Homo sapiens: one gene and its partners. The protein of the gene in region 3 interacts with the protein of the main gene of each other region in a pairwise test. Each region holds a gene or a part of one and is shown on either strand. Other genes may lie near its edges.

The links.
Region 1: the proteins of DEF6 (region 3) and ARHGAP22 interact in a two-hybrid assay, tested with the Homo sapiens proteins (one large-scale study listed by BioGRID and IntAct).
Region 2: the proteins of DEF6 (region 3) and RAPGEF4 interact in a two-hybrid assay, tested with the Homo sapiens proteins (one large-scale study listed by BioGRID and IntAct).

The regions. Positions count from the first base shown.
Region 1 is NC_000010.11:48,451,499-48,455,150, forward strand, and holds part of ARHGAP22 (rho GTPase-activating protein 22), read right to left. Parts: intron 3,637-3,652; coding exon 3,504-3,636; intron 2,664-3,503; coding exon 2,590-2,663; intron 1,928-2,589; coding exon 1,806-1,927; intron 110-1,805; coding exon of another isoform or gene 1-109.
Region 2 is NC_000002.12:172,738,803-172,742,454, reverse strand, and holds part of RAPGEF4 (rap guanine nucleotide exchange factor 4), read right to left. Parts: intron 1-3,652.
Region 3 is NC_000006.12:35,307,796-35,311,447, reverse strand, and holds part of DEF6 (differentially expressed in FDCP 6 homolog), read right to left. Parts: intron 1,779-3,652; coding exon 1,638-1,778; intron 990-1,637; coding exon 804-989; intron 1-803.

The DNA of each region.
Region 1 (3,652 bases), on a different chromosome or scaffold from region 3:
CTCTCTCGGCTGCCCCACGTCACCCCTCTGTGCTGCTGACAACTGCCATGCCTGAATGTCCACACTCTGGGAGCATAGGGCTCTGGGACAGGGAATAGAGCCATCTTTCCTGTGTGGGGGCACACACATACAATTGCACACACAATGCACCCCGCCCACCCCCTAAAATACCCCCCACAATCACACGTACAATGCACCCCATCCACCCCCAAAGTCCCACACACACACACAACTGGACAATGCACCCACCCAGCCTCCCCAAATCCCCCAACACACAATCGCACATACAATGCCCACTCCCGAAAATCCCACACACATAAAATTACACACACAATGCACTCTACCCAGTTTCCCCAAAGCCCCTACACACACACAAGTGAACACACAAATCCCCTACCCAGCCTCCCCAAATCCCCCCATACAGAATCGCACAATGAACCCCACCCACTGCCCAAAATCCGCCACACACAATTGCACACACAATGCACCCTCCGCAGCCTCCCCAAATTCCCCCATACACAACTGCACACATAGTGCACCCTGCTCACCCCCCAGAATCCCACATACATATAATCTCGCACACACACAATCCCCCGTGTCTAGGCCAAGGCCCCTGAGATGCAGCCCCCAGTCCTGGGGACTCAGTTCCTACGGTGGTGGGGTGGGGGCCTGCAGCGGAGGTGGGCAGTGCAGGAAGGACCAGGGCATCTATCCAGCTGCCTCATTCCCTCCTGCCACCCTCACCACAAAGGCCCGACGCTAGGAGGTCCCCCGGTAGGAGGGAGGGCTGAGTGCCAGGGTGGACTCTCCCACTGAAGTTGACTAGGAATCCTGGAAGAAGTCAAGGAAGGAATTCTGAGGCCAAGAACCTAGGTGAAGCAGGAACTCCATGAAGCAGGCAGGGCAGGCCTCCTCCCTCAAGCATCTGTACCACCAGGCAGGTAGGAGCTTGTGTTTTCCTGGCCTCAAGGGGCCCTGGGGTGGGAGACCCAGCCAGGGCTGACCAAAGTGCGGACTTGAGCAAAAGCACTCCGCCACGTCCCTCAACATGGGATAAGGGCAAGAACAGCCTCAGCTGTGGGCTTCCTGTCTGAGCAGCACGTCTCTCATGCATACTCCACTGGGGACAGTGTTCCATGGGCCCTATGAGGTGGGCTGTCTTTTCTATGGCAGCCTACACCTGTGCCCTTTGCTAAGTCTGGCTGACTGGCCTCTGGTGAGTCCCCTCGCCTCTCTTGGCCTCAGTTTCCTCATCTGTAAAGTGGGGGCGATTACCACAGCACAGGCTGGTTGTAAAGCCTGAAATGAGATGATACAAACAAAGCACTTGGTAGAAGCTTACTGAAAGCGGCTGCTGTTGCTGCTATTTTTAATCACTTATTGTTATTTATCATAGAGAAATTCTCCAGGGTTTGCAAAGCTGACATCCAGGAACCTATGACAATTGCTTAATTGTAAAAGAAAAGCAAACATGTCTGTGTTCAAGGGCAAAAGTGCTGACCTCTCCCATCCCTCCAGCCTCTTCCATCCACAGAAACCCCTGGCTATTCTAATTGCACCCAGTGACCTGCTGCTGCCCATCGCAGGGCAAAGTTCCTTTTTTATCTTATAGCTGAACCTCATGGGGGTCGGGGGTGAGGTCTGCAGAAGTTCCTGCCAAGTCCCCAGAGATGGAGATGTGCCACCTGAGCCACCCCTCCTGCTGGCCTGGCCCTGGGCTGGGATGGTTCCAAGGACTTGCCGTGGACCAAGATGAGCCCAGACCCCGGCAGCACCCAGGGCCACCAGGTACACCTCCCACTTACCTTCCATGATGGTTACTGGGTCCTCTACCTGTGGCCGCAGAATGTTAGGTCCAAAAACGGTTGCCAGATTCTGGACACTCATCTTGTTGACATTTGAGTATGCCTGAACTTCATCCAGAAACCTGCAAAGTAAGGAAGCAGCAGTCATCAAAGAAGCAAGTTGTGATGCCCAGTCTCCTGTGTGCGGCCTGGACGCACCGCCACACCCCTGCTGAGCCCTGCTGCCTGTGGGCTTTTGCCCACTGGGTGTAGCCTGCCTCTGCCAGGCTCGATGAGGGAAGGCTTCCCCTGGGGCCCAAGAGGGCCATCAGAAGTAAAAGTCACTGGGACAAGGGCCCACCGCTATTTGTGTGAAAGGAGGACAAGACTCTGCAAATTGTAGTGGGCACAAATTCTGGGAAGTCCCAGACCCCAGTCAGCGCCGCCCCTGCATTCCCCTTCTCAGTGTCTAGGATGGGGATACATGAAGGGTTGGGGTCAAGGGGCAGATGCCGGGGGGACAGGATGGCAAGAGGCACCCAGGAGGGACAGAGGGTATGTCCCTTCTGGAATTATCTACCCAGGTCTGTTTAAAACCAGCTGCTCCCATGGGACTGTAAGCTTCGTGAACTCAGGGTCTGTGCTTTTCCACTCCCTGCTTCGTCCACGCTGGGTTGAGGCTGTGCAGGGTGGGGAATGACCCGGGCCCCCCTCTGACAAGGAAGAGTTGCGTGTCTCGCTGTGGGGTTGGGGGAGCGTGGAGCCAGTGCAGGAAAGTGTGGTTCCCTCCTGCCAAGCCGCTTACTTGCAGATGTATCTGAGCAGGTTGTAATTTGCCTGAGGAAGGTTGCTCACTTGTTTAGCCAACTCCAGAGTGCCCTTAGGAATGAAGAACAGAATTTCAAACACCGGCAATGAGGGCCCTGACTGTTCTCTGACTGCGAGGAGGGGTGGGCAAAGAGAAGGGAGGTGGGGGCTACGGCAGCCCAGCCCCAACAGACCAGAGGGCTCCACCACCTCCACCTCCCCTCAAGGAGTGGCCAGGGCCCAGCTGTGACCTCCTGGGAAGCTAACTTGCTTCCAAGGAGCTGGTGTGAGGGGTGAGCCTCTACAGGGCCCGTGGAGGAATGTCAGGGCCAGCACTCAGCTCACTTATCAAGACACAAATATTTGCCAGATAGTGAGCCCTCATCTCCCACATGGCCGCAGGGAAGGCAAACAGTCCTTCCCTGGCCCTGAGCCACCTGGGGCTGCAGACCAGCACCTGCACGGGTGGGGACGGGAGGGCTGGCTCATCTGTCCTGGGAGCCAGCTCAAATTCTTTTGGGAAGGAAGCAAGATATAAATAAAAGATGTCCTGGTTTCTGAGCCTGTGACGGGCCTGAGTGGCCTGAGTCGGGTGTGGGGAGTGTGAGCACCTACTGGTGTGACAGCCAGAGCTGGGCACACCGGACCCACCCCTCCCAGGGACCAAGGCCGCAGACAGGTATGGCTCCAGACAGCAGGATTCCCCAGCCCTCCCCGACCTGAGCAGGATGCCCTGGCCCCTCCCCCACCCAAGCAGGATGCTCCAGGCCCCCACCACACCCCCAACACAGCAGGCCTCCACAGGATCCATGTGCCATGAAAATTCATGAAAAGTCAGAGTCTGTGTCCTGAGTCTACAGGCTGCCACCCAGCCAGCCCATCTCCCAGGAGCTATCCCCAGGAGCCACTGACCTCCCCCTCGTCCTTGGTGAGCAGCTGGGCGCAGCTGAGGAAGTCCTCGTACCTGGCGAAGGGGACCACGGGCTCGGGGAGCTCCCGCAGGTACAGCTTCAGCAGGGAGGCCACCGTGTGCACGTCTGTTGTGCTGTGGGGGGGAAGAG
Region 2 (3,652 bases), on a different chromosome or scaffold from region 3:
GGAAATACAGGGGACAAAGGAACATGTTTTAAAAAACTGCATGGAGGTACAATGAAAATTCAGACTGAAAAAAACAACAACAACCCAGTTTCTTCAAGAAATGTATTACAAGGAAGAAAAAGAGAGAAAGAGAGAACCCAGACCTATAGACATATCAACTAAATGCAACTTATTTGGCTCTTGATACAAACAAACTGCAAAAAAGAAAGTTATGAGGTAAATGGGGACATTTGAACACTGACTGAATAATTGATTATATTAGAGAACTAACGTCAAGTTGTTTAATGTGTGTGGTATTGTTTTCTTTATAAAAAGTCACTACCTTTTAGAGACATATACTAAAATATTTACAGATGAAATACATGGGATTTGCTTGAAAATAATCCTGGGGGGAGTGGGGAGCGCGTGAAGGTATAAACAAAACAAGGTTGGCTGTAAGTTGATGATGTTGGAGCCAGGGAAGGGGTGGCACAGATCATACTGGCTGGGCACAGTGGCTTAAGCCTATAGTCCCAGCACTTTGGGAGGCCAAGGTGGGAAGATCACTTCAGCCCAGCAGTTTGAGACCAGCCTGGGCAACATAGGGAGACTCCATCTCTACAAAAAATTTTTAAAATTAGCCAGGCATGGAGATACACATCTGTGGTCCCAGCTACTCAGGAAGCTGAGGCAGGAGGATCGTTTGAACCCAGGAGGTCAAGGATGCAGTGAGTTGTGATCAAACCACTGCCTTCCAGCCTGGGTGACAGAGTGACCCTGTCTAAAAACACACACACAAACAAAAAGAATTAAGAATCATACTGCTATTTCTTCTTTTTGTATATTTTGATTTTTTCCACAATAAAAAGATGTTAGTTTTTTTTTCAAAGGTGGGTGAGGATTTAAGGAGGAAGAATAGATTAGATTAGAGCTATGCAGTGTCATTTTTAAAAAAGTATTCACATTAGCCAAAAAACATAGAAGAAGCAACAGAGGCAGATGTGGATGGTGTCACCCACGCCCTTCCCCAGCAAAGGGCCCAGTGCAAGGGCCTTTTTGGGTTACAGAGGCCACCATCCCTGAGGAGAAGGATGCCTGTGGCCATCTTGCCCTGGGCCCATTAGCACCTTCTCTAGTCAGGGCACTGCACTGAAGCTGAAGATAAAATGATGAATAAAATATAGGGACTAAAGTCAAGTGATGTGAAAAGAGAAGTAAGCAGGCCATTACAATGGAATCGGACTTGTGCTATGTTATTACAGAGTGGGACCAAAGTGTGCTGTGAGAGCACAGGTAATGGTGATCTGACTGGAAAAGGTGGCAGCCACGCTGTCCTGGACGATTCCCAGAACTGCCTTCTCATTATCATCCAATTCCCAGGCTCTGTTGCTCTAGGAAGAGGATGTACTCCTGTACAGGCCAGAAGATGTAAGCATCCTGACCTCCTGGCAGCTTGGCTTCTCATTGTAAATGCAGAAAACGGACTTCTGAGAATAATTGGATTTCCCATATGGCTTACTTAGAGGAAGAATACATTAGCCAAAGGACGTGAGTGTCCACTTCTCTGATGTGACAGATCTTATTGTCAAATTAATAAACTGTCTTTCTGGCTTTTAGAGTCTCTGAGAGTCTGGTACCTGTGTATCTGTTGCTGAAAGATACATTAATTTTTGATGTGCTAACAAGTCAGTATTCTGAGATTGCAAGACCAGCCTGAGCCCTGGAGGATGTACCGGGGTAATGTCATCCCTTGGGACATGGCTAGTAGATACTAGCCTCCTCCAGGGACCCCTTTCTGCTCTGTGTGCTTCTTTGATCCTCTGCATTTCTCAAGGGTGGACCCATGTCTGATGCTTCTTTGATATCTGAGTTATCTTCTCTCACCATGTGTGCTACAAAGCATTTTGGTTCTTAACAAATTTGTTTCTTGATTTCTTTCACTCGAATTCAACCTAATCAAAATAGCTAAAATAACATCTATTTGGGGGCAAGTCAGATGGAAACTGTCCATGGAGTATTTTTAAACTGAAACACGAATACTTAAAAAAAATTCATCTGCTGCCTTTGAAAGATCACAACCTTTTGAATAACCATGTTAACTTCATCATCTGCTTTGGCTGTGACGGCCAGTGTTCCTCAAATAAGCCAATCAACTGAGAACCTTTCTCCAACCTATACTTCTAATTAAAGAACAAGAAACCAAACACTGTGAACTCCTTTCCAAATGAAAACGATTTCTTTCATCTCCAGTGGTTTCACTGTCAATCACTTAGATAGGTTCTTTCATCTATAACAAAAGATGGCAAACTTTTTCTGTAAAGGTCCACATAGTAAATATTTCAGGCTCTGTGGGCCCACAGTCTCCATTGCAGCTACTCAACTCTGCCACTGCAGCGGGAAAGCAGCTGTAGACAATATGTAACCAAATGAGCATGGCTATGTTCCAATAAAACTTTGTTTATAGACACTGAAATTTGAATTTCATCTAAATTTCATGGGTCACAAAATACTGATCTTCTTTTGATTTATTTCCAACCATTCAGGAATGTGAAAACCATTCTTAGCCCACGAGACATACGGGCAAGCTGTCAGATCTGGCCCACAGGCCATAGCTTGTCAATGCCTGTCCCATCATGATGAATGCCAGCAATGAGTCGCTATACTACATGAATGTGTATGGTCCCTGTCCCTTCATAATACTCCTTTACCAACCCTGAGAACTAGGACTTATAAGTGGATCTGAAGTTCACAGTTGGCAAATTTAAAATCTTACGGGAAAAATATTTTCATTAAAATTAAACAATGGGCCGGGTGTGGTGGCTCACACCTGTATTCCCAGCACTTTGGGAGGCCAAGGCGAGCGGATCAGCTGAGGTCAGGAGTCCAAGACCAGCCTGGCCAACATGGTGAAACCCTGTCTCTATAAAAATACAAAAATTAGGCAGGCATGGTGGTGTGTGCCTGTAATCCCAGCTACTCGGGAGGCTGAGACACGAGAATTACTTGAAACCAGGAGGGGGAGGTTGCAGTGAGTCAAGATCACACCGTTGCACTCCAGCCTGGGTGACAGAGTGAGACTCCATCTCAAAAAACAAAAACAAAAACAAAAAAACTTAAACAATGGTCAGCACACTTAAAAAAAAAAAAGAAAGGACATTTTACCTATCTTAAGTCCCAAATAGTGGGAACTATGTAATTTGTTCCTAGTTGCCATCCCCTCAGAAAAAAATGGTAAGATCCCTGAGATAGTGGTGAGCTTGTTTTACTCTAACAATACATCTGCTGAGACTTTTTTCAATGTTGGTTTATCCATCCAAATGTTCAATGTCCTGTCTTTCTGGTTTTAAGATTAGTATTTGTAGACCCTCATCTCCTCAGTCCCACCATAGTCCAAGATGGTGGATGATTGATACATAAAAAGCTATAGATTTTGTTTCTTTAATCTAATCTACATATCTACAACACTTGCAACACCCTTCCCCACTTGCAAATATTGTCCTGTCTATGATAGCTTTCTAGGCATTCCTAACAAACACTTTAAGGCTCTATTTTCCTTGTGTTTTGTTTCACTTCAAATTTCATTGTATACTTCTTTACTACTGCAGACTTTCTCTTTTAACTCTCTTTTTATTTCCAGTCCCAGGGTTTCTCTTTTTTTCACCATCCACAACAG
Region 3 (3,652 bases):
CGGGTGGTTCCCTTCATCACCCTTCCCACAAACAGAAGCCAGGACAAATGTGAGTGGAGCTTGACATGCTAGGGCTTCTTGTAAGTACAGAAGCCCCCTCTCCTGTAAACCCCACTCTAAAGACCTAAAGTCACCCTGGCATCTCCACAGCCACCAAGAGGACTAAAGGGTCACAAGGCCAAATGGGCAGGGGAGGGAAGTGAGGATAAGAGGGAGGGTACAGGTGGATGGGAAAATGCCTTCCCTGGCTTCACCCAGGAGTAAGGAGATAGGGACCAGATTCCCAGCCTTTTCTCCCAGGATGCCCTATCCCTGGGTCTCTTAGCTGAGTTTGTCCTGGCTTTCCAGAAGAAAGGCAGAAAGGGAAAATCTGGAACCAGAGTAACCTCCTGTCTCAGAAAGGTCTCCCCTTGCCTTGTAAAGCATCCTTCCTGTCCTGGAAGAAGTGGCAAAAGGTAAAGGAAAAAAAAGCACCCTTCCTAGATTGCCAGTAATGCTCAGTAATGTATCTGGCATTTAGACCTCTGTGTAAACAGAATTTGCAGATCATTTTCCTACAGTGAGGACCAGCAGAACCCTCATGAAAGTGTAATTTCAGTTTTCCTGGAAGAAGGCAAAATTACTCTGACACAGGCAGTTCTAGGCATCTGGAGACAGCTGGGTGAGGACAGATACCAGCATGGGAAGATGGTAAAGAAAGAAAGGGGATATGGGAAGGCACCAAAGGTGGTTTGGTCTCATTCATGGTTTTGCTTAGGTCTGGTCCCAAGTGATTCAGTCCCTGGGGCTGCCATCACCCTCACCTCATCAGGAACCATGATCAGAGGGTACTTGTCCTCAGACAGGAAGTTGAAGAGGCACCAGAGGCGGAAGGCATCCTGATTGGAGAGCATACTGTTCCCGTTGCTATCTGCCCGATAGTTCTTCTTGGCCGTCAGCGTCCAGCACAGCTCATCAAAGTGCTCTTTAACAAAAGCCCCCTCCTCCACCTGCCACCAGGGCTGCAAATCAGCTGACTGCATATCTCAGCTCTACCACGACACTAGGCTCCAGCTGGGTTTCTTGGGTTCATCTATGCCCCTGCTCCCCACCTGGCCAAGTCCAGGGCCCTAACTCAAGGGATCCCTGAGCTGATTACCAGGTAACTAGCTGGTTCCAACCACTCCACCCTCCACAACACACCCACACCCACCCAGGCCCCCTGACAACAGATTAACTCTAGTCTTTCAGCCCAGAGGACAAAGAAGGAGAAACCCAGCAGGAAGCTAAGAGCCAAGAACCTGGAAACACAGTGACAGATTGGAGGAGTTGGAGGGGGAGTTCAGGGGGACAGTCTGGGAAGGGTGGAGAACCCTGGAAGCTGGAGGAGGGCCGGGCAGGGATTCGGTGGAAGGTTATGGGTAGGGTGGGGCCCACCTCATTAGAGATGAGGGACATTGAAGGTGAATTGAGGGGGACAGGAAGGGGGCAGGTGGCTGGGATGTGAGGGACGTGATGGGACAGCAGTCACGGACAGAGCAGGCAGAAGTAGGAGTTTATGGCAGGGGCGAAGAGTTGGAGTGGCAAGGTATTAGGCTGCTGGCCAGGCTGGAAAAGTGGGGAGAGGTTACAGATGCTCCCTACAAGCTGGGCCCCACCTTGTCCAGGATGTACTTGTTGAGGTAGGGCATGTATCCCTGGCTGGACACAGGGCCGTCATCATCATCTCGGAAGTGTTCCTCCAGGGCCACGGGGTCATGGGGGATGTGCAGGACCGTGTACAGGTTGTGGGACAGCACCTGGGATAGAGTAGAGTGGCAGTGTGTCTTTCTGCACCCCAACCAAAACTGGGCCAGAGGACTGCTCCCCACCTCTCTGCTTGTCCTCACCCCATCCTGGCTGAGTTCTCTACACACACTGTTCAGTTCAGTAATAACTAAAACTTATATACTATGTGCCAAGCACTGAGCTAAAGTACTTTACATATCATTTGCTTAACCACCATAACAACTACTCATATACCCATTTTACAAATGAAAACTCCTGCAGCCCTGAGATATTTCTCACCCAAGGTCACAGCTGGCAGAACTGGAATTCAAACCCATGCAGTTATACTCTTAGCCACTTCATTAGGTATTGGTGTCCTCTTTCTACAGACAGGGAGACTGAGGCTCAAGGGATTCAGTAACTTGCCAAAAGACCCACACTGAACAAGAGCTTGGAGTTCAAATCCATCTCCATCAGATTCCAAAGCCCAAGTGCTTCCCACAATGCTAGACAGTTTGCAGGGTTTGCAGGGACTTAGTCTGCCACCCCAGGGCAGAAGCTGCCAATTTATCATGGTTTCCATCAAAGACTCAGTGTCCTGGCTGCAGTGTGCCTATCACCTAAGCGTGTCTGCTCTGGGAGAGGAGAGGGCTCAAAGAAGGGTCATGAAAAATGGTCCATGACATGGAGAGGGCAAGGCTTAGAAGGGATAGTGGTCATAATGGTGTGCAGGGGAAATGTGGGTTTGTTGAACAAATCCATGATATTAGAATAAAGGGGTTGAAATCTGAAATCTGGTGAAAATAAAATCTCCTTGGGGTAATTCTATTATAGCATTTGTCACAAGCAGTGTAAATGATTAAAAAGTCACTAGTTACTATTGCACACTTACCATATGCCGGTCACTGTAGGAGGTGGTTTATTTAATTAAAACTGTTTTTTATTTTATTTTATTTTATTTTATTATTTTATTTATTTTATTTTATTTTATTTTATTTTATTTTATTTTATTTTATTTTATTTTATTTTGAGACGGAGTCTTACTCTGTCACCCAGGTTGGAGTGCAGTGGCATGATCTCAGCTCACTACAACCTCCACCTCCTGGGTTCAAGTGATTCCCCTGCCTCAGCATCCTAAGTAGCTGGGATTACAGGCACCCACCATCACATTCAGCTAATTTTTGTATTTTTAGTAGAGACAGGGTTTCACCATGTTGGCCAGGCTGGCCTCGAACTCCTGTCCTCAGGCGATCCGCCCACCTCGGCCTCCCAAAGTGCTGGGATTACAGGCCTGAGGCACCATGCCCGGCCAAAACTTTTTTTTTTTTTTTCGGTAGAGACAGAGGTCTGCATATGTTGCCCAGGCTGGCCTTGAACTGCTGGCCTCAAGTGATCCTCACATCTGGACCTTCCAAAGTGCTGGGATTTCAGGCATGAGCCACTACACCCAGTCAAAGCGCTTTTTATACCCCATTTCTAGTCTTCACAATCACCTATATACGCAAATATTATTAAGCCTGTTTTTCAGGTGAAGACACAGAGGTTTGGAAATTTTAAGAGTAAATGGCAGAGCTGAGGTTGAAACTAAATGTGCCTGGTTCACAGGTTGCCTTCCTACTAGAATACTGATGTCAAGTCTCCCTCCTCCGTTGGATTGTGAACTCTGGAGACAAGGTCTCTGTTCATCTTTATGTCCCTCAGCATCTATGTCCTCTTTTGTACATCAAGTGCAATCAATACATGCTATATTGAAGGGCTTCTTCCACCACCAGCAGTTCACCTTGGAATCAGTTCCTAGGAGGCAGGAGCTAGCACTGTCTCGGAGATGGTGTGTGTGCCAAGCCTTCATTTTATTCTCTTTTCAGAGAGGAGGGGGAGAAAGTATTGAGACTTTGCCTCAGTGTCC